Regions from separate parts of the Homo sapiens genome. Here region 1 is linked to region 2. Evidence: fine-mapped expression QTL. A gene starts in region 2. The other region holds a variant in brackets. All regions are shown on one strand. Distances are from middle to middle. Region 1 has its middle 140 kb from the start of KCNH7. Region 2 holds the start of GCA (grancalcin).

Evidence for each region. PIP is the estimated chance that this variant, and not a neighbour inherited with it, causes the effect.
Region 1: its variant is the best candidate, but not a certain one, in a credible set for the expression of GCA in cerebellum (GTEx, PIP 0.56).

What each region holds. Positions count from the first base shown.
Region 1 is chr2:162,967,777-162,984,640 of GRCh38, forward strand. No RefSeq gene overlaps it. Among named protein-coding and RNA genes, the nearest start is that of KCNH7, 140 kb to the left of the region's middle. The variant C/T (reference allele first, on the strand shown) is at 8,641.
Region 2 is chr2:162,334,432-162,351,295 of GRCh38, forward strand. GCA (grancalcin) reads left to right here and starts at 9,701. Exons shown (of 8, transcript NM_012198.5): 1 at 9,701-9,844; 2 at 13,147-13,311. The coding sequence starts at 9,818. RefSeq lists enhancers at 9,258-9,487, 9,340-9,509 and silencers at 9,538-9,687, 9,928-10,007.

The DNA of each region.
Region 1 (16,864 bases), 630 kb after region 2:
TCAAAATTTTTAAGAGATTAATACCTTGGTTTTGTGTGTGTGTGTGTGTGTGTGTGTAGCAATTCTGTAAATATTGCTTCTTCTACTCAAAATATCAATTAGGAAATAATATATCCAGAAATCTAAGCAGAAAATTCTTGAACATTTCTAGAAGAGTTCCGTTGCTGAGAGTTGAGGGATTTTCATAATTTACAACCTTTTCACCACAGTCTGTAGGACATATGTTAGCATTGGAAGCTGGGCCCTATCCTGCTGAGTTCAGCACATTGCCTGACCCTGGGACATAGCATCATGCTGTAGCTCTGACTTGGCAGATCAGATTAAACTACTTCAGGGACATTAAAGTATAAATATTTCATAGTGCCCTCATGGGACTGAATTTAAACTAAAACACTTAAAAGTCTCAGTTGTTTGGTCTTGCTGATGATTTCTACATTTTTCTTCTCTTTAAATTTTCACATTTTGCAAAGTTATCTTTTATGGAGTTTAGTTTTGACTGTTTGCTACTGTTGTTTTTTATAAATTCTAGAATGTTTAAAGCTGGAATCTTGGCTGCAAAAAATGAAATCTAAAGGCAAAGAAATCTATTGGTTAGCAGGTATCTCTTACAAAAGGACAAGATTAATAAACTGAAGGAGAGCTTTTATTAGAAAGTGAGAATGTGCACAAGAAGCACAGAACAGAGAGTGAACTCAGGGACATTGTGCACACTGGACACTGCACAAAACTGCCAGCTGGGCTTCTAAGGAAAGACTCAAATTCAGCCAGTGTTCAGATCACTGAGCAGTGTGCCCACGAGAGTGTATCTGCCCAAAGGGAATGCCACATCTGAAACATTGTCATGACCAAGGCTAACTGCATCCCTTTCATCAAGATAAATTCTCTTTGTGCACAAAGATTCCAGATAAATTAGCAGTGAGTGCCCTAAGGTAAATTGAAGGTAGACATTTAACAAACAAAACATCTGCTTACATAAAATAATTGCCCCCAAATATCCCCAGAACTATAGAAAAGAGAATTTCAAATTTGATAGGAAATCAACTATAAATATTGCTTTAAGTATTTAAACATATAATAGACTTTCTAAATTTCTGAATTTCTTCTTAGAATTTTAAGTTTTCTTGGGAAATCTATATAATGGATATGACTAGGTTTTACCTTTTAGTATTCCCTTACCTCAAATACATGGGAAGTATTTTACCTAAAGAGATACAAATATTTATTGTAACAAATATATCTATCTAGGTAAATTGTAATTTATCTTGAAGAAAGGGATGTAATTATTCTTGGTCATGACAATGCTTCAGATGTGGCATTCCCTGTCTTTGTCAAATTTGTTTTTCAACCTTTGGATAACAAAAGTTTTTCAAATATGGTGGTGAAGGTATTCTTACTACTTAACAAAGACAATATGTACAGAAGAATACTTTGGGAGAATTTTTGGTAATACTCTAGAGTTGGTTAGTGGCCTCTTTGTTATCTTGGGCAAATAATTTAACTCTTTTATGCCAAATTCAATGAGAATAGGTGAAGCATTGGGACATTTTCTCCCTCACCAGCTACGCATGTAGTACATTAACTTTCTTTTTTAAAAAAATAATTTGTAGGTTAAAATTGATATTCAATAATGAGATTTTAAAAAATAGTGTGCATATAAAAACTTCTATTTGTTAAATACAATATGCAATCGAAATAGAAAATTTATGAACCAGAAGAGCTTAATTTTCTATAGTATCTTGATTCTACATGACTTTAAGGGAAAAAAATTATATAGAATACAAAGGGAAAGCTTTGAGTCATCTATATAGGTTTCTGATAAGGGAATCAGTCTATCCCTTATCCAAAATGCTTAGATAAGAAGTGTTTCAGATTTTGGATTTTATCAAGTTTTGAAATGTTTTCACATATCTAATGAGATGTCTTAGGGATAAGGCCCAAGTCTAAACACAACATTTATTTAGTTTTCATATGCAACTTGTACAAATAACCTGAAGGAAATTTGATATAATATTTATAATAATTTTTGCGCAAAACAAAGTTGTGACTTAGTTTTGATTATGACCCATCACATGAGGTCAGATGTGAAATTTTCCACTTGTGAGGGCAAATTTCAGATTTTGGGTCATTTTAGAATTAAATTTTCAGATTATGGTTGCTCAGCCTGTGTATACATAGGACGCCTATATTTGACATTCACATGTAATTAATTGTATGGCCAATTGAGGTCAGTTAATTTAATGGAAAAAGATGTTTGATTCTTTCATTTAATTGACCAAAATAAAATATTTAAATTTAAACTGAACAGCAAATATCATATATTAAGTTCTTCACCACCTATGCATGTGGTATAGTCACACAGTTGTGAATATATTACTTAGAATATACATGTTCTTGCATCTTCAGGATCACCTAGCAAGATGTGAGCCAGTCTCATACAAAATCTATTCCATTCAGAATATCCATTAAAATGAGTAATCATATTTGACATAAATAGCTTCCACTCTGGTTTACCATCAGACTACAAACAAATAGTGTAAATAATATATGAAACAATGATGCAAATCACCAAGAAGATGTAGCTCCCAATGAGAAATAGGGATTCCCTAGTTTCTTATAAGGATGCCTCCCAAGTTTTGTAATCAGTATGGTTTATGTAGAATGAAGATCTTGGCAGATCCAAAGAACTAGCTCATTAGTTTCTGTAATTCAGGCTGGATGAAGGCCATGCCAATACACAAAAGTTTACCTACTACATTTAAAGCAAGTCCTTCCTGTGCGGCATGAGTTTCCCTTCTTATGGTGTCACTGAGCCAACAGAAGCTCTGGCTGTGAGCTCCTACCCAGAGCTTGTCACCAATTAGATGTTCCCTAAATTTTTGTTAAATTGACTCATCAGAATTTAGATAACTCATCACTTCGGGCATCACTTGGGGAGGATCAGGCTGATCTACTAGACTCCCATGATTACAGCAAACCTTGATACTGTGGTTACTCTAATAGGAAGCAAGCAACTTGAAAATAACAAATGAAATGTTTTATTGTAATATGGAATAATCTCCTTATTTCTCCTTTGCTTTCCACAGTCCATCCCAAGACTGTAGCTAAAAGAGTATTACCTTGCTCATACTTGTCAGGCTTTAAATAGAAGTACTACTTTATATTCCTTGAAATTAGATGTCATATTGGTTTTATTTCCAAAGACTAAGTTGTGACATCTTTGGTGGCCAGTTTTTCATTTTCCTCCTTCAATTCAAGTCACTAGAAAGTAAACCAGATAACAGCAAAAAACCCCACAAACTGCTGGAGAGCTATCTTGGAAACCTTTTGTTAACATCAGATATTCCTAGTTGGGTGTGCCAACAGCATTGTTTATAGGGTGACTATTTGTGTTTTACAGAGAGATTAGGCAAGATTTAGCAGCTCACCAGTGTAAATCCATCATACTGACTACATTAAGACCCAAGAAATAAATGTAATATATTTCTTTCATATAGCCAACAAGTTCTCCAGCCATTTAACAGGACATCAGTTTTAATAAAATATTAGCCATGCTAGCAAAACCAAATGTAATTTGTGGTGGCTTATTAAAACTAAAATCCCTAGCATGTTAATATCACAGCTAAAATCACTAACCTGAAATAATATGATTCAAAGAGATTTGGATGTCCACCACTCTTCTCTGAATCCCAATGATATGTAGCTTCTATAACTGAAATAAAACAAGGAAGAGTCACCACAGTTGTTCAGGAGCAGCTCAATAACACAATTAGTGCAGCTTTGTTTTTGAATATTATATAATAAGTTGGAGAGGCTAAGTGATATTTTCCATAGACTTCAGCATTTGTTCAATAACTTACGAAAATTCTATTTGGTCTCACTAAGTGAAATAGAAGAAAAATATTTTTACCTTCAAATTTTAGCTTTGTTTACCCTTTCAATTGTCAAGATCAAGTCTGTATTTCTGGCTCCCATTTCAAATTACTCAAGTTTATATCTACTATAAAGAAACAATAGCCCATTTGTATATGAAGCACCTTTTTGCAGGCTGTTGTACATGGGCACGTTAGATCTGCTTTCCCAGCACAATAGCATTTTGAATATTTTACAGCTATTCCTGAGGTGAGTTCATTCACTGACATCTGTCTCAAAACAGTAAGCATTTTGTATTCACCTTGTCTGTGTGTTCTAAACTCACACATCTTTTATTTTTCCTTGAGGGAGATCATAAATGCAAAGATGTATAATTAGCCACCCCGTCTACCTGTTTTGTGGCAGTCATTCTTGTATGCGGCATTTTATTTGTAAAGAGCTTTAATGTGAACATTAACAACAATTTATGAAGCACTCCACTCAAAAACAGAATCTGGGATGGAGTACATAATGATAAACAAAAACGGAACATGTGCCTGCAGACAGCTGTGAGTGACACACACACACACACACACACACACACACACCCTAAACTGGGAAATCTTCCTAGAAAAAGGTCAAGCAATAGTGAAGGGAAAGATGTGGTGAGAAGCGGGGGTGAAGCGAATAAAGAGGCAAAACAGATTTTAAATCCCCCACAATAGTGTACAGTAGTAAAAGGAAATTTGCTTGCCTCGGTTGCTTAGAAAAATATGTACAAAATGAAATTTAAGTTAATAGTGTTCTATGTCAGTCTTATACTATCAAATATTTCTAATGTACCTAACTGGGTTTAAACAAGCCAATTTCATGAGTTTTGCCCTCAGGAGAATTACAACACCCCACTCAGCAATAGATGGAGTGGGAAGGTTGCTAGATTAGAAATCAGAAGCCTCAGATTCTAGTTTCAGGTTGAACGCTGACTAATTATGTGACTTCAGATATGTTCTTTAACCAAACTGTGTTTAGTTTCCTTCATCAAGCAGGAAGAAAATGTTTTGAGATTAAAATCATGTGAAAAGTATTTAAAATATATGAAATATAGCAAAAACTACAAATTACAAATGTAAATATATAAAGCTATTTACAGGATATGTAGAATGTACAATTCCTTAAGTTAGAATTTTCATCATATCTTTGTGTGTGTTTGTGTATATAATATAATTAAAGTGTATGTAGGTCTTGCAATATTTACAATAGTTATAATTTAATATGGGTACAAACTGAATGTATTTTAACTGTGGAGTAATCATAAGAGAGGATAAGTGCATTCCATTGCTATTTAATGTATCATTTAAGTCTATGATATACATTCTGAACAAGTTTTCTTTTTAATTTCATAAAATAGAGTTAGAATAGAAAAACCAAGCAAAATAATTTATCTTTTGTTTCTCACACAAAAGGTCAATGAAATTCAAGTTTAAGAGCAATATCAGTGAAGCAATAAGGTTATTAGTAAGTAAAAAGTAAGTACAAGTAACGAATAGTTGAAATAAAAAGAGAAAATTTATCACAAATAATTAGATCACATAGGATGAAAGCTCTTTTCTAGTCACACACGGGCAAAAACTGTGCCTTTTCAATTAAGTAAAGTTTTCCATCAGAGCAATAAAAACTCATTTTAAAAAATAGCAAAAAAAGTTAAAAACCTGATTTCACAAATCCTTATCTAACAAATCAGCATGTGGGTAAGGTGGCAGATTATGTATGCTTATTTTTGTGTGTTGGTGTACATATATGCATATATATAAGGTAGAATCATGGTGACAATCTATGAGCAAAAAGAAAATAAAAATTTTTCTTTCTTCTATATTCCTCTGTACTCAAAAACGACAGGTGTAGGGGAAGCAATGCAAAAGAAAATAGATTCAAACTATTTGTATGGCAGTTTATGACTGAGTTCTAATTCTAAGGTGAATGATAATGATGGCTAGATGTCTAGTAAGTATAACATTGTCTGTAACAATATGGCTATAACACATTTAGTGTCAAAGTCATTATTTTTTATCGATGAGATAAAACACTTCCTAGAGGTGGGTAGGCCTGTGGTAACATACTGTGTATCCATGTTGATCAAATTTGCCATCTGGAACAGCTTATATAATCAAATAATGCTTTTGACACTGGGAAGGAAGGAAAGAAGGAAGAAAGGGAGGAAGGAAGGAAGGAAGGGAGGGAGGGAGGGAGAGAGGGAGGGAAATGGAATCAAGGGAGGGTGGGAGGGAAGGAGAATTAAAAACAGTATGTTGTACATTTTTAAAAGAGTTTCTGGTAATTTATGGCTAATTATAGTAAGTGAACAAATATTTTAATGTCAGCTCAGAGATTCATGACCTCATTAAGACCCTTAGTGATCCTAAATTATGTTTTCTGATACAATCAATTTACTATAGTAAAATCTAAGTCATCTAGCTACTTTTATGCTTGGCTTCTATCAAGCAGAGACAAATATAAGAAAAAAATGAGTCCCAGAAGCCTAATATTAAAAACAATTCTCTAAATATTTCCTTTGGGCCAGTAAATATTCATTTCAGTGAGTTCTACCTCATTATTCATTCTTCATGAGAATGTAGATCCCTGAAGCATTTTAGGAATCTGTGTTAGCAAGGAAAGTCTCAGGTTGCTTTGCTTCTTAAGACAGAAAAATGTACAAGAACATATTTACAACAATTTGGAGATTTTTTTTTTGCAAAGTCAAGGCCAAGAAAAAAAATCCAAGTGAAACAGAACAGCTCAATTCTGCAGCATGTCAGTCAATCAAATTTTTATTAAGCCTAAGAGATATAACATCCTCTAGGAAAGGACCCCGTCTGTACCCTTTGACATATATAATGTGGTTTCACGTTTTAAAGCATTCACTATTATTTTAGTATTACAATATTTTATTTATAGTTTCAATACCATAAACAGAATTTGTTCTGAATCAAAAACTTCTTAAGAATAATTTCACTCTATGTGGACAGCTATTTCATGAATCTCCTAAGCTATAATGGGAATATTTAATATTCTACTTTAATAATAATGATTAATTTACCTGATTAAGGCGTACTATTTTTCAGATATCAAGAATAATATTCTTTAAGTTTGGTCTCAATACTTGAATGCTGTGAAGTCACACAGGCAGCGTGTTGCATACTTTAGAGACAAAGAATTCACTTCTCTTTCGCTACAAAATCCCATCCTACTGCTGGTTGCTAGTGTGTTTTGGTGGTTGTGTCTTGTTTTCCCCTCCACTTCTGACTTGCTGCTCTTTAAGTTTGGGTTGCCAGAAGAGACAGGTGGTGCATGAAGGTTACTTAAAACAGTGCCAATTTTAGCTCTGCAGCAAACATGGGTCAAATCAAGTGGAAACTGATGTTAGGATGGGAGAGAAGTTGAGAGTTAGAAATGGGCATGATCTTTTTCATCCTTTGGATGCATTTTTAACATTTTCTCTTGTTGTGAGTGGATAATCAATGGAGACTTCTGAAATTTAGATTAACAAATTGTATTATGGATATACTGTGTACCAGATACTGCAATACAATATCTCATTTAGTCTTTGTAACATTTCTATGTGGTAGCTAATATTGTATACATTTTACAAATAAGGTATTCAAGGCTTACAGTAGTAAGCTGACCTATCCAAAATTGCATGTAGCTAAAAAACGACAAAGCTCAAGTATAAATAGAACTGTAGTTACATCAGCAGTTGTCAACTAGGGGCAATTCTGCCCTCCAGGGGGGCATTTGCTAATGTACAGAGGAGACATTTTTGGTTTTCACAACTGGGAAAAGGACAATATTGGCATCTGGTTTGTAGAGGCCTGGGATACTACTCAGTATCCTGCAACATACAGGACAAACCCCCAAACAAATAGCTGTTTAGCTCTAAGTTTCCATGGTACTGAGTTTGACAAACTCCAAAACAGAGGTATTTGAACACTAAGCTCAATTTTTTTCTTATCACAACATTACTTTTTCTCTGAGGCTACTAATAATCCATCAAAGCAATAATGTGGAACACAGTTCTTGAGATACTGTGTAAGATACATTAAGAGGGATGACTTGACCTGGGACTCAAAACAGAAACTGCACAATGGAAAAATGTTACGTTATCATTTATGCATTTTTTAAGTGACCAGCCAGCTGTCTTTGGATAGACGGAGTTGAGCAGTTCAGATTCAACCCTTGCTTTCAAGTGAGAAGATAACCCATATGTGTGCATGTATGTATACGTATGTATATATGTATACATATCTAAATATATATATAGAGAGAGATATATAAGAAAAATAACTATATGGGTAACATATGCTGAGTGCATGTGTGGAGTAGGTAATAAATAATAAATGCTAACATTTAATGAATACTTACCATGTGACAAATGTACCTATGAGGTAGATATTACTGTCATCTGCAATTTAGAATTGAAGTTTAGAAAGCTTAAGTAACTTTTCCAAACATCCCATATTAAGATGTAGAACTGATATAAACCCAGGTATCTGGCCCCAGAATTTGTGTTCTTAATGAGTATGTTATACCTACACTGCTACAGATGGCAACAGGAATTCATAGAAATTCTTCTATGAGAAGTCTACACTGACTCAAGATGGCTTGTAGGAAAAGGAGACCTTAATATATTTAGAGGAGTGGGAAGGCACTTCAGAGAAATGAGAAAGGCTAGGAGATAGGTGCTTGTTGCATTTGGGAGACACTAGCTAGAGTGGACACCATGTAGGAACATGGAGA[C/T]ATAACTGCAGAGAAATCAAAGGCATGAGGCACACATTCACACCTTACTCCTACTTCAATGAAAAGTTAAGGTATCCTGGTGTAACCTACATTGTCTTCGTGTCACTATACCTCAAAACTCAAAAGCACAATTAGATAGAAGGAACACAATCTAGTGTTCGGTAGCACAATAGGGGCAAATTTAGCAAACAATAATTTATTATGTATTTCGAATTAACTAGAGGAGTGAAGTTAAAATGTTCCTAACACAAAGAAATGACAAGTGCTTAAGGTGATGGATACCCCAATGACACTGATTAAATCATTACACATTGTATGTCTTCACATGTACCTCTTAAACTTATAAACTATTATATATCCATAATAACTTAGAAATTTGAAAAGCCTTCAACATTTTTCCCATTTACTTCTTCCTTCCTAGCAAGGCTAATCCCTCTATGTGATCCCCCAAAATTCCCCTACATAGGAATCAGATCATAAACATTCCAATCCACCTGGCTCCCTCTTTGCTTCACACTGTTTACCTCCCATCTCCTGCTTCCTCTAAGGTCTTGTTCTGTCAGAATCTGTGTTGAGTTCATTGCAATAAACTCAGAGGCTAGCATAGTGTGCAATATAAAAATATGCTAAAATATGTTTGTCAAAATAACATATTTTTTTTCCGTGAACACCTTTCCTGCTGCCTGCAAACATGTATGGGTCTCCATGTCCAAACAAATTGTTCCTTTGATATAACTACTATCTTAATTTCCTGGACTAAATCACTTTAAGGGCAAGTTTCTACTGCCAGAAAAGAGGTTACAAAAATGTTTGGGTCTTAGAACTTTTAGATTTTAGAATTAGACCAAAGGTCTATAGACTGCAGACATAGTGGTTCCATCATTTAGTAATTGTATATTTGGGCAAGTTTCTCAACCTTTCTGTGCTTTAGTTTTCTCATCTATAAAATGAGGATAATATGAATATATATCTCATAGGCTGATTATAAGGAAAAAATGGTGTTATATGTGAAAGTGCTTCATGCAGAAGAACGATCTGCTCTGTAAGAGCTAAGCTACTACAACTTTTTGTTTCATTTTTAATATTAATAGTCCCCCAAGAAGTAGGGTACCCAAGAAGTAGGGTACCATGCCCATTGAGTTTGGGGTGTCAGGGAAGGAGGTGTAGTTCGAGAAGTCATCCACATCTGTAATTGCAGCTCAGAGTAAGGATATTCAGAGTAAGAATGTTATTTGTCAAGAATTAAGTGCTGGGTGGATGAGAGAGAAAGGTTCAGGCAATTTGAAAAGTCAAAGGCAGAAAAAAAGAGCATAAGGTATTTCCAAATCTTGATAGCATGAATAGTAATGAAGCAAGGAAAAAAAGAGAAGAAAATGAAGATAATATGGCAGAAGAGCAAAACGAGCTGTGAAAGCAAAGCACCACAGTTAAAAACAAGAAAAGGAATTCGTTTTTTTTTTAATATCTTAATAGGACCTCAGTGTGAAGTGTGCTTTGTTTCTTAGTTCTAAAATTTACCCTTTCAAGATCAAATATTTACTAAGCATCTTCTCTGTGCCAATCACATTCTCATTAACCATTTCTTTGACACTTAAGGATCCAGTAAATTAGATACTGTTATCCCTATTTTTAGATATGAGGAACTGAGGCTTTAAAAGTTAAATAAAATAATTAAAATAATTAGTAATTTGTGGGGTTAAGATTCAAACCTAATGGTTAGCTATTTTATATCTAGATATTTGATTACCTCATGTAATGAAGGAAAAATAATTGATATTCCAGGAGAAATAGAAGACTCATATGTCATAATAATTTTATATTTATCCTTCTCCCACTTCCTGCAAAAACTTCTTAAGAGTCATCTACATCTCCTGACTTTATTACTTGCCTGTATTTATCTCTAGTCTGCTCCATTCTAGCTTCCACCAAAAGAACACCTCTGAACTGCTCTTGATCATGTAAAGTAGGTCTTCTGTATGTACATATTCAGTGGATACTATTGCTTCCACATCTTACCCTCTCAACAGTGGTCAAAATCGTTAACTATTTTCTCTTTCAGAAACATTTTCTTCCATTGTGGTGTGTGATGGCATAGTATTCTTGCCTCTCTGTAACTGCCCCCTTCTCATTTTTATGTCTGATTTCAACTCCTTTAGCCAAGCTTTAATTGTCAGAGCTCTTTGGGGCAAAGTTCTAGGACCTCTTTGATTCTCACTCTTGGCTTATTTCCTAGAGATAATGTTACCCACTCCCTTGGCCACTGTTACTCCATTTAACAAATTTCTTTCTCTAGCCTGCTAGTATCTCCATTCAAATGTTCATTCATACATCTTTTAAACTTTCTGTATCCAAGATGGAACTCATTATGTTCCTCCAAAACCTTCTCCTGTTTCTGGTTTTCCAGTCTACTCCAAGTCACCATCTCATCTGTACCACAGCAATAATGTCCTAGCCGATCTCTTTGTTTTTATGATGTTATACCACTGTAGGTTAGAAAGCAACATTTTTCTAAGAGTAATAGGCTTTCTGAATTGAAAACGAAACTGAATTTTTTAAAAGATGAGTAACAATACTTCACTATTTTAAAGCTATTGTCCTGGTGTCCCCCTTTCATCCACAACAAATAAATTTGTAGAACACAAAGAGCTAAAGATAATGCTTTTGACTCTACCTATTTTTTATAATTTTTAGAAGAAAAACACATAGCCTAATCTTTTTATCATTTTATTTATTCAACAAATATTTATTGATTGAACACTATATGCAAGACCTTATGCTAGGTGTTGAGAATTCAATGGTGAACATAGCACATATACTCTCTACTTTTTTGAAGTTTGAAATCTGAATGGTGGAACATTTAACAAACAAATAAAATAATATATAGAATACTATACATTGACTGCTGTAAGGAAACAATAGGATGCTGTGATGTGTTGCATGAGAGATGACAGCTGATTTTTTTTATAATGGTTGGAAAATATATTTGTGAGGAAACGAATGTTCCATAAGAGCCAGTCAGGCAAATAAGGAAGAGTACTGCAAAAAGAGTGTATATGACATGCAATAATCCTGATATGGGAAAAAATAATCTATCTGAAGAACTAAAGATGAGCAATATGGTGAGTTAGGTCAATGTGGTGGATTGAGCTATTAGCTCCAATTTTTCACTCTAATATCTGCATCCTTTGCCATGTAATAATGCATTTTCTTACCTAAAAGAGGAGTGTATCTCCATGCCTTTTGACTTTAGACTCAACGTAACTTTCTTTGATCAATGGAGTATGAATGGAAAAGGCAGTGTGCCAATTCTGAATGATCTTTGCAAACATTGCAAATTTTGTTTGGCTGGTTCCATGGCATGTCTGCCATCTCCATGATAAGGACATGCTGTGCCCAGCCCACTAGTGCAAGAAGGATAAGAGACATATGAAACAGAGCCACCTGGCTGACTGGCAGATCAGCCAACTTTTTTCAGCTTCAAGCAAAACTACCCAGCAATGTCTACCTAGTCCAATCTACCCCCCTTCTATGGACATATGAGAAAGCCCAGCCAAGATTAGCAGAGCCACTTCAGCCAACCCACAGACATGTAAGAAATAATGCTTATTATTGCATGCCACTGAGATTTTATAGTTGTTTATTATGCAGCAATAGCTGTCCAATATGACAAGGTAGGAAAGACAAAATTAGGCCTCATTGAAAATTGCAATATGTTCTGATGAACCAGAAATGAAGATCAAGTTACAATGGCTAGGGAGGTAAAAAAGAAAAAAATAACAATTACATCTAACATCATGGAAGCCAAGACAGAAAAGTAAGTCAGAAAAGAGGAGTGTTCAACTATGGCAATCTAAGTCTAATGAATGAAATAAAAACTGATAAATGCCCACTGGATTTGGAAAACATTTGTGGCTTTGACAAGGTAATTAACTTGAATGGTAGAGAAAAAACTTGGATGGATTGAGATGAAGAGTAAATGGGAACAGAAGTAGAGATTTTATCTATAGACAATTTCCTCAGGAGATATATTTGCTCTCAATCTTAAACAGGACAAATCTTTCTCTCCAACACATAATACGGGAATTAGCTTCCAGTCATGTTACTTGAATTGAAATTCAACAGTACTTTTAGATTTCTTCAGGAGTCTAAGTAGTTTCTTAAGAGAGTGTCATTCACTGCCAAACAAACAATACTAACATGTATGCATATTGTGATTTATTGTTGTGATAATAAATCACAATATAAATACATGTTAATATTGCTAATTCGATTTGTACAACAATGAAGAAAACTTGATATACTTTACTATCTATGTTAAACAAAGTATCTGTTTGATCATTTTTACAATATTATGAATGAAAGAGAAAATCTATCTCAGAAAAAAAAACAGCAAAAGACAAACTAGGATTTTCACAGATTGATAAAACTATATATGGAAGAAACAGTAAACAGTGAAAAACCCTGTAGACAGATGCTTAGATTAGTTTAAAAACAATAGATGTGAGAGGTAGTTTGTAAATAAAGTGATATGATCAAAACAATAACCATACAGACTGCTCTATCAAAGTGAACAGCCACAAATTTAAGAAGAATTTGCATTCTGTATCTAATAGGCTTTTAGCATATAGCACATTCAAAATGAAAAATTAACAGAACAAAATGTCTTGTTTTTATTAGATAATATTTTCTCATTAAAATTCCAAGAACAAGATTGAATACTATTACAAATATATTTTATGTGGGAAAACATATACATTAAGGTGCCAAAGCATACCCAGGCAGTTGGTGACATTTTTTTTTTGCTTTGAATCACAAAACTTTTATATTTCTGCCAAAACAAGGAATCTTTTTAGGATGGCATATCTCCAGTTAGATAGTTATTTTGTCAGCTTGCATGCTAAAAAGGTAGATTTTTACACCTTTGGAAATCAGATGTAAGCTCAAATCTGATACCTAACAGATGAACGATGTTCTCATAATTGAATAAAGAAAATGATCAAACTCCTGCATGCAGCTACCTAAAATATCACATACCCACTAACCAACATACATCAGCACAAAAGCAAGGATGTGATGATGAGAGACTCAAGAGAAAGTGATAGAAGACAAATATTCACAGGGTTGGATTGCAAATACCCTGGGCAGAATAATAATTTGATATCCCTTTTGATTCATATTCTTTATGTATTTTTTCAACATTTATTTAGGGAAGTGAGGATGAGCATCTGTTAGAAATAGTTTACTTGTTTGTTTTTCACCTGGAGGGATGATCTAAAGAAGTGAGAGTGAAACTAGTCTAATAATAACGATCTTTATAAGGAGAGCAATGATAACAAACAGTATTTTCTTCTGTTCTTAGTACCAATGGCTTTGCACTGCTTGAATCTCTCTTCAAGAGAATTTGCTGCAGAGACCATAATTGGCTGAGTTTTCAGTGCACTTTTAATCCACCATTACAGCCACACCGTGGTCATGCTTCCCTTAGGCTGCTTACAGCAATGACTGACAATGGCAGAACTACCACAGCCAGCCATTTTTGACTGACATGGAACTCCTCCAGGAAAACCTTTTCTGAAGACTCCTCATTATTTTAGCCTAGATTTTCAATTCCAATTCAGTCTGAAGCTCTCCTGATGCACTCCTCTTTTCTTCCCTCACTTCTTTTATAGGTGTCAAGCCTGTACTCAGAAAATAGGAAAAGAAATAATTTGAATTCACATGGAATGGACAAAAATATTCATTTTACAGTTTTGCCCGAGGGTTATATAAACTCTCTGGTTGTCTTTCATAATATAGTTTGAAGAGATCTGTACCTTTTGGACATTCTGTCGAATGTGGCATTTCTTTGCTAATCATTGACATCATCATTTCACTTAGGACATCATGGTGATCAAGAGAGAATGAGCATGAAGAGGTTAGAACATGGGAGGACTTGGTAAGACACATGTATTAAATGAGTAGAGATTAAGCCCTAGGAAAGTTGAGAAATTCAGAGACTTTCCATTTAGTTAAAAATGTTAGAAGATCCATGGTAGAGGGCATGTCAGGTTATTCCCTCCAAAGTAAAAGACCAATTGCTGCATCTTACATCCTCTATCACAGAGAAGGAGGCACAGAATCTGCTAGGCCTCTTCAAGTTCTGGAGTCAACACATTTCAATCCTAGGAATATTGCTCAAACCTCCATACTGTGTGATATGGAAGGCTGCCAGTGTTGAGTGGGGTCTTGAGTAGGAAACGGCAGCACAGAAGGCCCAGATTGTCTCTTGGGCCATAATATCTGGAAGATCCTATAATATTGGAAATATAAGCGATGGGAAAAGATTCAGTGTGGAATTTATGACAAGCCCAAGTTACTAGCAATGCAGACTTCTGAGATGCTGAAGCAAAGCCATGCCATTCACAGTGGATAATGTTGCACTTTTTCAAAAAACAGCTCCTGGCATGTTGCTGGGTCCTTATAAGAGAGGAATGCTTGACCACTGACTCTGTACCAAATGACTGTGTGTCTAGAACTTTGCTTACATGAGATGACCTTTGTTGGACCCATCAAACCACAAAGGTGAACAGGCCCATTAGCAGTCCATCAGAAAATGGAAATGGTACATCAGATTTGAGCTTGAGGAGGATTAGAGCAAGTAAGCTGCATGAGCAGATGGTCCAACCTACATATCACTCACCAAGGTGCACAAGAATCCAACCTCCAGCCCACTCACATGGTCCCATGGAGCAGGGAAAAGCATCTCAAATGGCAAGCTGAGAGACTATGAAGGAGCTCAAGCCTGGTTTACTAACGAGTCAACATGGCATATGGTGCCAGCTTAAAATGAATGGTAGCTGCAGTACTACCACTTTCAGGAATGACCTTGAAAAGCAGTGGGGATGGAGGTAGTCAGCTTGGGCTGCCATAACAAAATACCATAGACTGGGTGGCTTAAACCACAGAAAATGTTAGTATTTATTATTTACTTATTTTCTCTTAGTTCTTTAGGCTGGAAGTCCAAGATCCCTGAAGTAATATGGTTGGGTTCTGATAGGGCCCTGTTCCTAACTGGCAGATGGTCACCTTCTCATTGCACACTCATATAGCCTTTCCTTGGTTTATATGCTTGGAGAGAGAGAGAGAGCGTGCTCTTTCTTTTCCTCCTCTTATAAGGCCAACAATCCTATTGAATTAGGACCTTGCCCTGATGACTTCATTTAACTTAAGTTACCTCCTAAAAGCCCTATCTCCAAATACAGTCACATTGAAGTTTAGGGCTTCAACATATGAATTTGCAGAGGGAGAGGCCACAATTCAGTCCATAGCAGGTGATAAGGAGAAATACGTGTGGAACCCAGCTGATCCTAATTATAACTGAAATGGACATATGCAGCAACATTGGCTTGGGAAGTTAGGGATGTCTAACTTTAAAAACAATTGATTCTAAAGTAAATAAAATATGAAAATATTATATTAATATCTGATGACATATGACTGTTTTTAGATAGGGTCTTGTTCTGTCACCCAGGCTGGAGTACCATGGAGCTCACTGCAGCTTTGAACTCTTGGGCTCAGGTGATCTTCCCATCTCAGTCTCCCAAGTAGCAAGGACTACAGGTACTGCACCACCACTCCTGGCTAATTTACTGTTATTGTTACTATTATTACTAGAGAGAGGGTTTCACTATGTTGCCCAGGTTGGTCTTGAACTCCTGGCCTAACATAACCTCCTGTGTTGGCCTTCAAAAGTGCAAAGATTACAGGCATGAGTCACTATTTATGGTCTGGAATATGATTTTTTAGGGTTACACCTACTGGGAATATATTCATACCCCATTACCTACCAAGTTACAGTATTGTTATACTACCATTTTAAGTTAGATTTGCAATAAATGTCTTATTTATGTATTTATTGAACTGAATTAAACTTAGTAGAGATTCAATGGTGGACCTTCATCTTGTCCGCTGCTGAGAAATTAGAACTCCAGTACCTCAGAGGTTCCATTTATTTTTTTTTCGGGGTTAGGTAAAATGCCATACTTTTCTAGAGAATGGGCGTAGTAAACAAAAAAAAAAATCATCAGTCTACAAATCACCTTTAATATGTTGTACTTGTAGTTGTTTCCTCATAGCCTTAAGCTGATGACCCCAGATGTCCCTCAGGCATCACACAGTGAACATATACATTTGAAGATTACGATCTATTTCTGGAGACAGAGGTTCCTGCAAAGGGGGATGTTGG
Region 2 (16,864 bases):
AATCATTTAAAATTAAGCTGCTCAGGGCCCAAGATACTTCTGCTACAGAATCAGGGAAAAGGGTATAAATATCTATAGGTAAGGGACAAGGTAACATGTATTGAGGATATTTATAGGGATCGTTTTCATGACTGTGCCTATGTTACACCTCCCTGCACCTTTCTTTTGTGATTCTATGGCATCCTGAGCTAACCTCTAGCCACAGCACTCATCTCACTTTGTTACAATTGCATTTTGACTTATCTGCCATTCCTAGTAAGCTATAAGCTTCACAAGGACAGGCAACATGTCTTCATTATTTTTGAATCCTCAATAGTAGTGTAGAGCTTGGCACACAGGAGGTACTCGATGCATATTTAGTGAATAAATGAACATCAAATGCCTACCATGTGCTAGGAGGTGTGAGGAAAACAAAGATCTAGACCTATGCTTTTCCTGAGCTTTCTATATGTTACCACATTTAATCTTCACAACTCCATGAGTTTATGAGTGGGCCTATTGTTTTCTCTCGCTCAGTATTCATTCCTTCTGTTTTTGGTAAAACTGCTCCTAGATTTTCTTCTGGAGAAACCACCCATTTCCTCATCCTCAAACTATCTTTGGGTAGGACTGACCCCTTTCCCAGCTATTGAGCTGGAGCCTTATTAGTTTAACCTACTCAACATATCCCACTCCCTAGCTATAGTGATTAAGTGTGAACACGGAACCCAATTAAAACCAGAGAAATCCTAGCACTTTGGGAGGCCAAGGTGGGTGGATCACTTGAGGTCAGGAGTTCAAGGCCACCCTGGCCAACACAGTGAAACCTCGTCTCTACTAAAAATACAAAAAAATTTAGCCAGACATGGTGGCAGGCACCTGTAATCCCAGCTACTGGGGAGGCTGAGGCAGGAGAATCTCTTGAACCCAGGAGGTGAAGGTTGCAGTGAGCTGAGATCACACCGCTGCACTCCAGCCTGGATGACAGAGTGAGACTCTGTCTCAAAAAAAAAAAAAAAAAAAGGACCAGAGAAATAAAAGTGGAGATTCCCTGTAGCTATTTGTAACAGTGAGTTAAGGTTGGGTTAAGGGTTGGGAGGGGGCATCCCTCTATGTCCTAAGAATGGAGGCAGAAGGGACAGCTGGAGAAATGTGGGTCCTTGGAGAAACTGTCTATATGCCAGATGAAACTTAATCTAAAGCTAGCCCAGGACTTTGAATTACATGAGCCAATAAATTCTCTTGTTTAGATATATTGAGTTGGATTTTCTGTCATAATATTAAGAGGACTTATTGATCTTCTAATAGGGAGTATCCCCATTTTGCAAAGGAGAAACTGAGATTTAAAGAAGTTGCATTATATATTCCAATGTCATACTGTCAACAAATGAACTTGGAGTCAATTGTCAACCCCTTCGTTATTTATTGCACAGTTTCTTCCAGAGTTAGCATGGATGATAATGACTAGAACCAATTAACCTAGTCTCTTGAAATCAGAATGTGTGTGTGAATTAATGAAATCAGTATTAACAAAGTTAAAAAAATAAAATGTTAATAAAGAGAAATTGTCCCAACTCTGACATTGGTATTAACTTATTATCTGCATAATGTGCTTAGCTGATAGGTAGTTTCCTACATGGATGTTTCCTACATATTAATGAGGGAAAATATCAAAATTTAAGAACTGAATATCAGCTGATTTTTTTTTGTTATTGTAATACTACGATAGACTTATAGGCTGAAGCTACATGTTTTGCTTAGTTAACAGTTGAAAGTTGAGTTCAATAATAATTTAGTTTTTCAAATTTATACATGAAAAGCTATATTTTAGGCAATGCTTTCCAAGGGAAATTAGTTTTGTTTCCTTCTAAACATGTATTTATTGATGTGTAGATTTATTTAAAATAATGTACAGAAAGATATTTCACATAGGAAATCAAATACATAATTATTTGATCTTTGTTATCTATATGCTCAAATGGTTTCTATGTCCTCACTCAGACATTTTTTGTATCTTCTTTTCATTTTATTTTTTTGATATCAGTAACAACCATTTTCTTAGACACTTTATGAGCAAACTCTAGCCTAAAGATTCTGTTGCTAGGTAACATCCTCCTTTCTCCTCCCATCTCCTCTCCCTTTCTTTTCTGCTGGTTGCCATAGTGCCTCTCTTAATGGGTGGCTCAAGTCCTTACTATAATCCTGGAAGTTGAATAAAAACCTAAGTATATCTCTCTCTCTCTTTCTGTCTTCTATATAGCCTAGTTGCTCAGTGAAATATTTGGATTTAATTAAGTATCAATTAATCATTCAGTATAATTACTCTATAAATATGTACTTTACAATTTATCTGGATTTTTGGTTTACCTTACAGAACAATTTCATGGGTTGAAACTCTAATTGAAGAGTTGTTTAATTTGGGCAGGGTTGGGAATTTAAGTTCTGGAATTTCATTTGGATTTAATTAAATACAGATTAATCATTCAATATAATTACTCTATAAATATCTATTTTATGCAATTTATCTGGATTTTTGGTTTACCTTACAGAACAATTTCATGGGTTGAAACGCTAACTGAGATTTGTTTAATTTGAGCAGGGTTGGGAATTTAAGTTCTGGAATTTCTTTTTCTTCAGAGTGCTTGACATTTTCCACCTGCCCATAAAGATCTACTTTTCACTCTTCTCTACATTGCTCTGTGCCAGGGAGCCTAACCTCTGTGGACTGCGTCAATGAGCTCTCTTTTCCTCTAGCTTCTGATCAGATTCAGCCAATGGAAGCAATAGCAGGAAAGCAGAGGTAGGGAGAAGAGTGAGGTTTTGGTATTTATTCCCTAGGCTAATCTTAATGCAGGTCATGGTGCATCCGTGTGCTAAAAGTCATGTGTCAGGGGACCCTCTTCATACAATAATTCTATCCATGTTTTGATAACTGCTTTCTTGCCTCGCACCTTCTGCCTAAGGGTGGTAATGGGTCCTCAACACTGCTTGCACTGGGACGCTGTATCAGGCCTGATTGGTTTATCTTACCTATGTCAACACTTTTGTAAATAGTGACTTTATTACAATCCCTCAATTACTGTGTCTGAATGTGCCATCTGCTTTTTTCTGGTGGAAGTGGCAGCAGCAGCAACTGAGCTTTATGGCTAAAAGACAGAAAACAAGGAAAGCGTTTAAGGTAAGGTGAGCTGAGAAGATCTTGGGTGGTGCATTAATTGGGCTCATTATACCCACCCATAACTGATCATGGGTCGTCATCTACATTAGTACCTATCACAATTCTTACCCCTCTTTGTACCAGGAGAGTACTAAGTTTTTTTCTCTTTCTTTTACTTCAGTTCCTAATTTTGGATAACTCAAGCAATGAAGTGTTTTATAGCTTGATTCTTAGGTTTTAAGTAACATTAAAGGCTCTAAGAATGGGACTTTATTCTCTCACACTCATTCAAAACTACACAAGCACTGGTGATTGTGTAGTGAAAGGTGACAGCACAACAGTGAACATTATGATCGGGGTCTCCTGTTTTCAGCTTTCAGATTTTGTGTGCTATTTCCTGAACATGAAAAATAATCAGTTCATGTTTTATTTTAAAAATATTTTGCAACTGCTTTGATCTGTGTCTACATCCACAATGCAAGTTATTACTACGTTTCCTCTGAAGATGTAATTGGTGCTACTTATTTCACAAGATTGTTGTGAAAGTCAAATGTGATAATGTGCAAAATAGCTGTGAAAAATATCAAGTGTTATATAAAAGAATAAATTGTAATTTTTAAATTTTTATTACCAGGTTTTATTTCCACCAATAATTGTACATAAATATGAAGGGGGGCACTCTTATTTTACACATACACAAAACACCTGAGGATTAATGTGGAAATGAGATGATCTCAGCTTTTAGTTGGCCAAGAATATATTTAAGAATTGGGCCACTTTTATGTTTTTGATGAAACGATTTTTAATTTTTTGTAACAGGACTACTCTAACTTAACTGACACTACACAGAAGCGAGTTACTAACCAATGGGATAAGCATCAACATAAAAGAATTTAACTGACATATTTAATTTATATATTTCTAGAGAGTCAGCTTTGTGGGTGTATCAAACCCATGTTATTACAGAAGCGGGTTACTAACCAGTGGGATAAACACCAACATAACAGAATTTAACTGACATATTTAATTTATATATTTCTAGAAAGGCAGCTTTGTGGGTATATCATCCCATGTTATCTAGGTAGAATCTAAATGATATTCATAAGCACGCAACTTGGATTTAAAATTTAAGGTAGGTATTTTTCTGATCTTACCTGAAAAGCAGATGACTTTATTGAGGATTTTAATCATACTGTTGCTGTTCTTATTCAGCATTAGTTGTGGACACATACTGTGATCAACATTATCTACATATATATAATTTCTCAAGAAGTTTTCATTGAGTCCAAATTGCTTAATAGACTTAATAATCAAAGTGAGGATGTATATATGCAGAAAGTATACCAATCATCACCTTTCTGAAGAGCCTTGTTAACAATTTTATGCTAAAATGCACTATTATTAAATTGCTTTAGAGTTTGTACTCCTGCCAAAAGAGTACTAGTATTTTCAGAATTAAAAACAGAAAACTGTGTTATTGAGAGCTTAGCTGAAGAAAGGTCAGTTTGCCAAGTGGCTGCTTGAGGTAATAAATGGTAAATAATATTTATTTTTGTCTTATTTGGCATGCTTATTATTTTTCTTCTGTCCTCACTGGTGGGCAGTAACCCTTAGAAAGATACTGAAAGGAACAACTTCGGGCTTAAAATAAAATTATGACTGGATGGCTTCACTTGATAGTGTCATATTTTTATGTCTTATGCAAATAACACATATATATCTTCATTATTCCATATTAAAAAAATGAATAATTTCTGGAAAAGTATGATAATTATTGCATGTAGATCAATTAAGGAAATCTATGTTAAGGAATATTGGAAATCCAATTAAGGAATACATTTTAGCATAAAATAGATAAATACTAGGGTAGATCAATGTGACAGAACAACAGTGAACATTATGATCAAGTGTCTCTTTTTTCAACTTTCAGATTTTGTGTGCTATGAATGAAATGCTTCCCTCTCCAAATTTGCATGCTGCAACCCCAACCACCAATGGGATGATATTTGGAGATAGATCTTTAGGAGACAATTCAGTTAGGTGAGGTCATGAGAGTGGGGTCCTCATGATGGGAATTGTGCCCTTATAAAAAGAGACCCCAGAAAGTTTGCCCCCTCTCTGGCTATCCTCATGCACCAAGCAAAGGTCATGTGAGGACACAGGGAGAAGGCAGCCATCTGTAACCAAGGAGAGAGGCCTCACCAGGCACTGACCTTGTGGGCAGCTTGATCTTGGACTTCTAGTCTTCAGAACTGTATGAAATAAATTCCTTTTGTTTAAGCCACACAGCCTATGGTATTTTGTTATGGCAGCCTGAGCTAACAGACACTGTGTACGTACTTTCTTAAGTGTTATATGGATTTAGAAGTCGTCAGAATTATTTTCCATATGCAATTGGCTATACCTTTAATCCTCTAAGTCATAAAACTATTTATATTATTAATTAATTTTTATAATCAATGATGCCCAAAGAGGCCTTAATTTCTTAGTCCCCTTTCACTTTCATTATCAGCATCAGCAATTTGTTAGGGCCATTTTGGAGGAATCCTCCCTCTCTAAAAATAAATTCTTTGCCACTTGTCATCAGTGTATCAATTGGAGAAAGGTCTGTTAAGATGCAAATGCTGAGTGGTTGGTAGGCACCCTCACCAGAAGCTGTTCACTCTAGGCAACCTCTTAGATAAACAGCCTGACATAGTCACTTAGTATCACAGGCGTCTCAAATTTAACATCTCCAATATTAATTCTTGATTTGGCACTATCCCAAACTGCTCCTTCCCCAGTCTTCACCATGTAATTTAAGGGCAAATCCAAAACACCAGTAAACCCTGCTGGCTATACCTTAAAAACAGAATAATCATCTCACTACTTCTCACCATCTCAACTGCTATACCCTAGTAGGTCACCATCATCTCTAGATTACCAACAGATTGCTAACAGATCTTGTTTCTACACTAACCTCCTTCTGTCTGTTGTCAACAGCTGAAAGAGTGAGCCTTCCTAAATCGTATCATGTCCCACTTAGATTTCAAACTCTTCGGTGGCTCCGTATCACAACCAGAGTATAAAAGCAAGTACTTAAAATGGTCTGTGAAGCCCTGCATGATCTGCTCCAATGTCCCCGCTTCTGCAACCACTTCCACTACTCTCCCTCTTGCTCAATCTATTCCAGGCTCACTGGCCTCCTTGTTATTCTTCAAATAGGTCAGGCAGGGTTTTGCTTTAGGACCTTAACTCTAGTTCTTCATGGAAATGTCTTCCTACAGATACCTCCAGAATGTCTAACTCATTCATGACCTCTAAGTTTTTGCTCAAATCTTGCCTTTTCAATAAAGCTACCCAAGTACTCCATTTAGAGCTACAACCTACTCTGTCATCTCCCTACCCCTTAACCTTGACTTAGGTTTCCTTATTTTTCAATAGCATTTATCATCTTCTCACATGGTTTATAATTTACTTACTCATCATTTTTACTTACTATTGTCTGTTCTCCCTGCTAGAATGTAAGCTCCAAAAAAGCAAGGACATTCCTCCCCTCCTATTGATGTATGTTTTCCACATCTAAAATAGTGTTACATTATACATGCTCAATAAATAATTATTGAGTAAATGAATTGTTCTATCTAAATGAAATTTCTTAGTGATATAAAATAAACTCCATTAATGTTGGTTTCCATTAGCTGGTATGTCTTATTTATTTTATATATATATATATATATATATATATATATATGATTTATATGAGGCAAGTAGGCTCTGGGTTTGTGATTGAAATTTGCTGAGGAGCTGTGACTCTTTTCTCTCCCTCATTCATATAGTGGGAAAGAGAAAATGAGGTGGCAACAGATAGGAAAAAGAACTGCAGTTAATTTATTGTTTACATTTTACTGGTAAATGTGCTGGTTAATTGAATATCTAAACTTATGATAAGACCAATGCCACCAAGATTCAGAAGAAATTCCATAGTTAGACATAATCCTGTAAGCTTTATAGTCACCAGAAAGGATGTACCCTGTGTAAGAGAAGTAATTAAATTGGCTAATCTTGGTCAAAACAATGTGTTTCCTTGGCTATTTCTCTAGTTATATTTTCTACTGCCATTTAAAAACTTTTAAAGCCTTTTTTCTTTTATGGTGTAAACAATTTTATTATATTCTGAAATACAGCACTATGGTTGGGGATGGAGAGAAAAGGGGACATACAATGTTTAAGAAACCACATTCTGCAGCCATACTCTCAGATTTGCTAGTCACTATGCAACTGCATTTGTGGGTAGTGAAATACAATTATCCACCTTACTTTTCACATTTGTAAAGTGGGAATAATAACATATACCTGATGGAGTTGTTTTGAGAAATAACACTTCACAACACACAATGCCTAGTACGTCGTATTCACTCTATAACTATTTTTATAAAGTAAAGAAGGATTTTATTAAAAGAAAAATATTTAAAAAGCAAATTTTTTAAATAGACATGACATTTTCATAAAATGCTATTGTTCATACAGTATTAACTTGACTCATGGAGGCAAATTAACATTACTGTTATTTAAAAAAAACTCTATGGCCTTATTTGAATTTTTATACTAGAATATTTAAAATTTGAAACACTAGTTTTAGAGAGAGAGATGCTGTGTTGTTCAAAGTCCTCCTCTGCATCTTCATGGTAGGAACTTTCTTTGGTAGCCCTTTCTCTAAGTTAAGAGATATATTGGCAGGAACTATGAAGGATCTGATATTTTACCCTAGTTATAAGCAAACAAGTAGAGTGCCACAGTTTCATGGAAGTTGGCAGAATGTGTGAGATTCCTGAGTCTGAGACAAATAACTTTATTACTCAAAGCACAACAGGCACCATGAGCTTCATACTTCCATAGATTCCCCTCGTTCTGAAGTCCCACAAGGCGAAGAGGAGCTGCCAGATGGGTGTTGTACATGCACTGTGTTTGTTATGCAACTGGAAGAACTCCAAGCTTAGGAAAGTCCTAAGAAGGCTGCTAGCAAACGTACCCAAACTTTGCCCTGGCAGGAAATACTATCTTTGCAATTAAATGTGCAGAAAGGCAAGAAACCCATGGGGCCTTAACTCCCAACTGCACAAATGCAGCTGCATCAATAAGGCTATTTTGATGAAAACAAGATGCACAAAAATTTTGACCACAGAATCAGACTAACATTGTAAATGTAAACACTCAATCCTTCCTAAGCAGTTCTTTGAATATGTAGTTAATCCGTTGGAATAAAATTTTGCAATGGTTTGTTCTTTCTAGCGCTTTATCATTTGATACCTTCATAAGCCATGCATTTTTCCCTTTTGCCACGTAGGTTTTACCCTTCCCCTCTATTTATTTATGCCAATAATTTAACCTTAGTGGCTTAAGTATTTCTTACAGCATTGAAGGAACTTACAGACACTTTCCCAAGAGTAGCTAGGACATCGGCAATCTTCCTTTCTCTCTGCTGTTTCCTCTGAGAATTGTTTCACAAGGTCCAACATCCTCTTCTGTAGCATAGCTGAACAACAGATACTCAGCTCTGCAAGGCTGATTTCCTTTGTGAATAGTTAACATTTTTTTGATAGCCTTATTTTTAAGAAACATGTTAGCCCTTCTCTTGTTCTTCAGAGATAACTCAAAATAATATCATTTGGTTTTTTCATTTGTTCATAAGCCAAAGCTACAGCTGCCTTGTCCTTTTAAAGTCAGAGCTACAAAATTCATTTGAGTTCCAGAGATAAATCAGACTTGTCCATTGCTATTACTTAATAAGCCAAAGTAATTGAACATTTAACAAGAGTTTGCCCAAAGGCTGAGTCAGATTATATACAGGACACCGTCTATATTATCAGTGTATAAACAGCAAATAAGTTTTTAGTGTATGTTCACGTCCTGTGCAATATTTGGGACATACTTACACTAAAAAAGTTTATTTGGAAATCAACTTTAACTAGATATCCTGTTTATTTGCCAACATGCCACAATTCAGGTCACCATTTATCTACCAAACAGAATCAATAACCTGTTCGTCCAATGTGGCCTCAAGTGGGTTTTGGCGCAGAAGCACTCCTCCTGGACCACAGGTGTGGTCCTGGTTGCAAAGTTTTGATGTGACATCAACACTACACAAAAGTAAATGTAACTGCAAAATTTTGAAATTCACAGATGGGTCTTTGAAGTCCAGCTCAAAAGCGTGGAGGGCTGGTTAAAATAAGTCACAGACTTGCCGGTTTGGGGTTTCTAGAAAGAAAAGTAACTTGAGGAGTTGAAGGCTTGTAGAAGACCTTTCCACAGAGAGTGGGAATTCCGTTGCAGCAGCCAAGGCTTCTTCGGGATTTAGAAGGAGAGCGCGCGAGAACCTGAGGGAGCCAGTAAGAGTCGAGCAGGGACTGGAGGGCTCCCGATGGGGTGTAGCCAATCAGGGCAGAGATGGGTGGGGCTAGGCTGCGGGAAGGGGCGGACTGCAGCTGAGTTGGCTCCAAAGTGTGGGACTCAGCCAATCGGAACCGTGCAGGGCGGGGCTGGCCTGCGGAAGGGGGCGGGTTCGGAGGAGTGAACTGTGCGGTTAGTGCGCCTTTCAGCCTCACCTGCAGCTGCGCCTCCTTGCACCTGCGCCTGTGCTTTTTCTCCCAGCACTGCGGACGCGACTCGAGGGTGACGCTCGCTCCGCTCGTCCCGCTCGTCATGGCCTACCCGGGATACGGAGGAGGGGTGAGTCCCAGCCGCTTGGTCGTGTCCCTCTTCCTCGCGGGGTGTGGCGCCCCCGGGGGCGGTGCCAACGTGCGGGTCCGCCCTTGGCTCCTGCTCCCTGCGTCCGCGCCTGGTACTCGGCGGCGCCGGATTCCGGGGCTGTTGGGGGCCAGGGCCTGGGCGAGCATTGATCCTGGGCTGACTTGGAGCCGCAGGTTTTCTGGTCGTTGAGGACCCTCGAGGAGCGTCCTGGTGGAGCCGAGGGAGTAATGTGTGTTTGGAAATTTATTTCCTGGAATGGAGGAACAAGCCACCCTCTTCTTGTTCCAGTAATCGTTTGTGGTACTTCCCTCCCCCGCCCCCCACTCAGTGTTGCTAGAGATCCTCTTTTTGAATTTCCTGACCACTTCTTGTTCTTTAAGTTCCTTATGAATAAATTAAGGTGTACGGTAAATAACTCCTAATCTTTACTGTTATACGAAGGGCAATCTGTTCTAGACTCCCCCGCTCGCCCCCAGGCGGGGGGAAGTTACTCTTTGTTATAACTTTTATCCTGCATCACCTTTGGGAGTTGCAAGTTATAATCGTAGAGTCCTGGTGGCTAGCCCCTTCTTTTCAGAAAGGAGCCCAAACCTTTAGTATCGATGTCAGTGATCTACACGCTGTGTTAACAGAGTTAACAGTAGTTTGATCCATTGCGGTGTGGGTAGAATATAATATATTTTCTATTTGTTTTTTACCTAAAAAGAGAAATTGTGTTTTACTGATTTTAATATAGGACTTGACTTTGGGCTATGGTTGTGGTCTTCAAAAGAGTTACTCCTACCCCTTGGAGTTCATGGTGGTGGTGGTGGTGGTGGTGGTGGTGGTGGTGGTGGTGGTTGTGGTTGTGGTTGTTGTTGTTGTTTTAGGATATGAATTTCCAGGTCCTCAACTTCCACACATACTTGTTCCTAAAATTGATTTGCTTTCCTTAAGACTTGCCTCAATCCCCTCTGGCACCGTCCACTTTGTAATGCCTATGCCTCCTCAGTCCTTAAATTTAGGAAGGAAGTTTAAGGTACCTAAGGAAAGTAAAGCCCCTTCGAAGATTAATCAAGATAGCATAAACCTGTGGGTCTTTAAAAACGTCCCTAGCGTATACGTATTTTCATTTGGTTGAAGCTATCTGTTAGAAGTTTGTATATTTACTCCTCTTGGTATGCTCTGAATTCATATATGTATGGTAGAGTGAGGTGGCAAGAGTAATACATTTTCATTCAAATAATTTGGTGCTTCCTTACCCACTTTTGTCAGAGTGCTTGAATTTGATGGAGAGTTCCACGACACAATAAAGAGAACGTCTGTATGTGTTTTGAATATTTAAATCCCCTTTTCCATGAATTTAAAATAAACAACTCTTTTCAGCTGTTGTCATGCTCATTATTAATCGCCGGAAAGAGAAGTACCCTCAATAGCTGAAGCAATATATAGATTAGAGGCACTGATTTTAAAAAATGTAATTGAAATATTTTAAGATACATTGGATAAAATTTTGGGATAAAACTTACATGATTTCTTTAGTAGGAGAATATTAATAAGATAGTTGAGACGTTTATAAATCCTGTTAAAGGAAACCCATGCCTTATTAATGTTTCTTATATTCTTTTAACAAAATATAAAATGTCAGCTGCTAGACCTAATTGTTTTGATAGTATACTTTTATCTAATTAAGTGCATGATTTATCTCTGTAGGAGATGCATTTCCAATAGATTTTTACTTTCTTCTTTTAAGAATTGTTTATAAAAATTGTATTATTTTCTTTTTTTTACTAATTGTATACGAATAAAAATTATAACTCAATGTAAAGGACTTTTTTCTTTGTTTCTCACTTTGGTCACAGGAAATGAAACAATCTAAAACTTCGTTACATGTTTTTGTTTGTACATGTTGTATTATACAAGCTTCAGTGTTTTCAATAATAAAAAAACATTTTAAGCACAGAAAACTTAAACAGATTAGATTTTCACACAAGAAATAGCATACAAAATCAATTCAAAGATGAAGAATCTGTCCTTAGGAATAACTTTTAATCTGTTTTCCCTTCCCAATTTGCAGCATTAGCTTTCCCCAGTCCCATAATTTGAGAACCTGGTGGTCAGATTAATGATGGTTACCAATTCTTTACCACTCCCCTTATCGAAAGGCACAGACTATTTCTCCACTTTCTTCAATCTGGATTGGGCCTGTTTCACCTTCATCTGGTAGAATACAGTAGAAAAGACACCATGGCAGTTCCAGACTCAATATTTTAAGAGGACTGGCAGCTTCTCTTTCTCTCTCTTAGAAGCTGACTGCCAAGCTATGAAAAAGTGGAAGAGCCATGTGAAAGGGCCCATGTGGAGGAGAACTGGGGCCCCTGGCCAACAAGGTTCATCCCTAAACACGGTTTACATAAATTTATATTTCAAGTTGTCCTCTTGACAGTTTCAAATGAGTCAAAATTGATCATTATTATTATTACTACATAATGTGGGTAAGGAAAGGCTTAGACAATATTTTCATGTCCAAGCCTTTCATGTTGCTTTGCATGTTTTTGAATCTTTACTATTGCCATTTTGTTATGGCTTTAGTTAAAACTAGATCACATAATCTGTAACATCAGAGAATCCCACATATATAAACTGTAATAAGTCACAATAGGCTGAAAAGAAACAAGTGGGAGGCCAGCATACAGAACTCTATGTCATCCCTCAGGATACTACCAGAACCACAGCAGTTTCTTTAAACATTTTGCTTCCCGCCCCTTAAAAGATTTTTGAAAAACTATATACCCTTTTCCCATATTTTATATTGACATATAAAGTTTTTATTTTAAGTTTAAATAGTTGTAAAGAATACAATACCCAACATATTGTAAATGTTGACACTTAAAGTTTCATTGTATTTACACATATATTCTTCTAAGTATGTGTCTTGAGGTTTACTTCTTAGTTTTACTTTAGGTAAAATCTTGCATTGTTTTACTTTTTGTTTACTTCAGTGATGTTGGTAAACATTTTTTAAAATTGTACATGTTCCTCTTAGATTAAGTTCTTAGAGGCTAGTAACTTTCTTTTTTCTTTTATACTTCTTTTAATGCTGGGTAATATATGTTGATGAATTGAATTATGTCTTAATGTAGGACATCTAACATTTTGTAGTTAAAATTTTTGTGATAAGATTATAAGCTTTTGGTAACTGTTTACTTTTTGACGGACTTCTAATAATTTCTTTTAATCCAACTTTCATAGATAATAGGTAGTATTTATATTACTAACCTTCTCCCCTTTCACTATTATAGTTTGGAAATTTTAGCATTCAGGTGCCAGGAATGCAGATGGGACAGCCAGTGCCAGAAACAGGCCCAGCTATACTCCTCGATGGATACTCTGGGCCAGCATATTCAGACACTTATTCCTCAGCTGGTGACTCCGTGTATACTTACTTCAGTGCTGTTGCTGGACAGGTGAGATGCTAAATTTATTGCATAAATATGTCTTTAAAATTATTGTTTAAGAGAAATGTCAGCTATTTAGAGTATCATTTTAAATGTATATGAAATTTATATTTTATATGTATCTAGACTAATTTTTTTCCTGAGATCAGAGATGAGCATAGTCATAATTATTTCATTTTAAAAGTCTGTTGATGTGATGCTTGATACATTGTTCATTTGACTAAAAGAGGAAACATTGTTTTCCATAGTGCGGAAATCTGATTCTTTCTTACCTAGTATGCTTGCGTTACTGAAATTCTTCTACAAGGGGCTCCTCTTACTAGTCACTAAACACCCCACCAAAACTTAGATATATCTTCTTATGAGTTATAATTTTTCTGTCACTTAAATCTTTTTATTTCCTTCACTCTGTTTGACATTTAGGAGCATCATACTCTCCCTGAGTGATAGATAACACAAAGCTAAGTAGGTTTAGCCTGCACATTCTTTTATAGCATGCAAAAATGACTATTGGAAATTTTAGGAAAGTAGGAAGCACTTTAAAAAATTATAAGGAACAATATTTCTAACTTGGGCCTCACTCCCATTTTTTAAAAAAAACTCAGTTAAAACCTAAGTATGTCAAACAATATGATTGGAAATCACTTCAGAGTCTCGTAAATTTATTCAGGTTGAGAAATTACATTTTTTTCACAGGTGAAGTTATATCATTTATAGTAATTTTGATTTGATATGGCTGGTAAATTTTCCAGGTTATCAAAATAATCATGTCAGGATTTATTAATTAAAAATTAAAGGAAATAGTATGTTACGATGTGGTATGGTTTTAGGATGTTATTTGTTTCCAGTAAATTTGAGTGATTATTTAAAGGACTGACTTTATTATGACCAATAGGGACGTGTGAAACTGCCAGTTCAAGTACATGAATTCTGTGGGTGAATTGTTACTGATGATATGTGAATACTGTGGTCAACGGAAGCTTTTCTTTTACTCCTACATAACTGTAACACCATACCACAGTTTATTCTTTTCCAAGTGATTTTATATATATTTTTCATGTGAAATTTCAAGGAAAATTAAGCAAATAGGATATGTATTATACCCCTTTGTATCAGTTATTAGTTGTATTTGACAGAAGTATTGAGTAAATATTCAAGATCGGAAGGAATACAATATTATAAGATGCCAATGTCTTCCAAATTAATTGATAAATAATATAATATTATATGAGTCAAATTCCTAAAGGTTTCTTTTTCTTTTTTCTTTTTGGCACTTGCTGCAATGATTCTAAAGTCTGTCTTGTATACTATGTTGTTGAGAATAAATATTAAATTATAATATATCATATAAATGTATTATTAATAATTGTGATAGTGTGGTCCTAATGTAAAAACAAACATAATACTGAAGAGCCCAGAAGCTTACCTGTGAATTCAGTATATGGTAGAGGTAGCATTTCATATCAGTGGGGAAAGAATGATTCCTGAATTAACTATCCTGAAATAATTAACAGTTTATCTAAAAGTAAATGTAAATCTTCAGCCTGTACCATATAGTAGCATGAATTCCAGATATATTAAAGGATTGAAAAGAGGGTGTATTGATGTTTATCTCCTGTTGTTGAAATAAATGAGCTTGTCTTTTTTTTTTTGCTGCTGCTTCAGCATGTATTGCAGCACCTGCTATATTTGTGTTTTTGTCTACAAAACTTCTTAGAAGAGTGATGAACTAAGATAGTTGCATGTGTTAATGAAACATTTGGGAACATCTTTTTAAGATGTGTGTTTTTTTTTCTTGATATGTTTCATTCACTTGTTTAACAATTTGGGGGGAAAGTTGAAAGCTCTTCTGTGGTTATGGAATACAGTGGATTGGTGCATGGAGACTGGGGGCCAGAGAGGATTTGGAAAAAGAGATCTACATGAAAATCATCTTGAAGGAGTTGGGGCAATGTATCAAAGAGGAGATTTGTAAATTGTGGATGGTTCTGGGACAGGCTCGATGATAAAACAGATTAGGAAAAGGCAAAGAAACTGGCAGAATGGATGTTCTAATACCATACTAATGGGCAGAAACAGAAATTCACTCTAGAGTCTTAGCTGTAGTCCATATCTCTTTTCTTTTATAATGGTCAAGAAAGATTTATTGATGTAGGTAGAATTTTATAGAACTTTAATAACATTTTATTCATTCCCTTGAGTGTTCACTAGGTCTAATGTGCTTTTCTAGGATTAGACAATATACACAGAATTAATATACGTGGCAGACATTCTGTTTTGGCTACCCCAATTTCATTTAAAACCCCCTTTTACCTTTTATTATGTAATAGAGGCTGGGGAACTATAATAGTCACCATCCCAGATACCTTTGTAGCTATTAAAGGCAGCCATGTGCCGTAGGACTGACCATTGACATGTAGGTGCAGTATCTTTGGAAAATCTTTCTACCCCAAATGAAAAAAGCCTTACTGGGAGCAAGCCTTGGCTGTGGCTGTTTTTGCCCCTTCATTCTTCCTGCCTGGAAAGGGGACTTGAGGTATGGAGGTGCAGTAGCCATCTCGTGACCCTGAGACAACAGGCTTGAGATAAAGACCTATAGATAGGGAATGTGGAAAAATGTAGAGACTGATGACATGTCTAAGTTGCCATACAGCCCTGTTCTGCCTAGCCTCAGACCTATTGTATGAAACAATAAACCCCTATTGGTTTAAGCATCTTCAATAATATTTTCTCCTGTTTGCAGCTAAATGGTACCTTAACTGTTCTACTCATTATACCATTGCCATTTTAAAGGATTATACTGGGAATAAGTAGTATTATACTGAGAATAATTCTATTATCTCTGTTTGACTATATAATACATTCATCATATAAAATTACAACTTAAAGTATATGAACTGGACATATATTTGGAAACTCTTTTTGACTGCTGAACTATTTCAGCATTTTAATTGTCAGCAATAAATTCGCTATGTTTGAACTATTTGATACTTTCCTTAAATTTCCCAGTCTTGTGCTTTTGAATAAATAAACTCCATAAAGACAGGGTTCTGGTCATATTTTCCCTACTTGACAGGTAGATATTAGGAATATATAAACATTTGATAAATGTTTCGTATGGATGAATTAACTATCCCATTTTCAATTTTTAGTCTAAATATTTAGACTGTATTTTTTCATATATTGAGTTCTACCTAGCTTTGAGGGATCAGGTGCAACATCTGACTTAGGTATACTGCTCCTGGAACCCAACTACTGAACTTACATCTACAGCCATATCCTTTTTTGATGGGCCTCATAATTAATAATGCTCTATGAAAAACACCTGATTAAAGGTTTCTGCAGTGTTCTTATTTATAGGATGAAGTATTCTAAACAGTAAGGATTAAATCATCAATTAATTTGGGGAAATTCTGGTTTCTGTCTTCATACATACAGACACATGCATCACAGTAATACCAACAACTTTAACTTTTGTATGCACACTGCTTCTACTTTTCCACACAGCAACTGTGATGTGGGCATGACACAGCTACCTTTGTATTATAGATAAGTAAGTGGA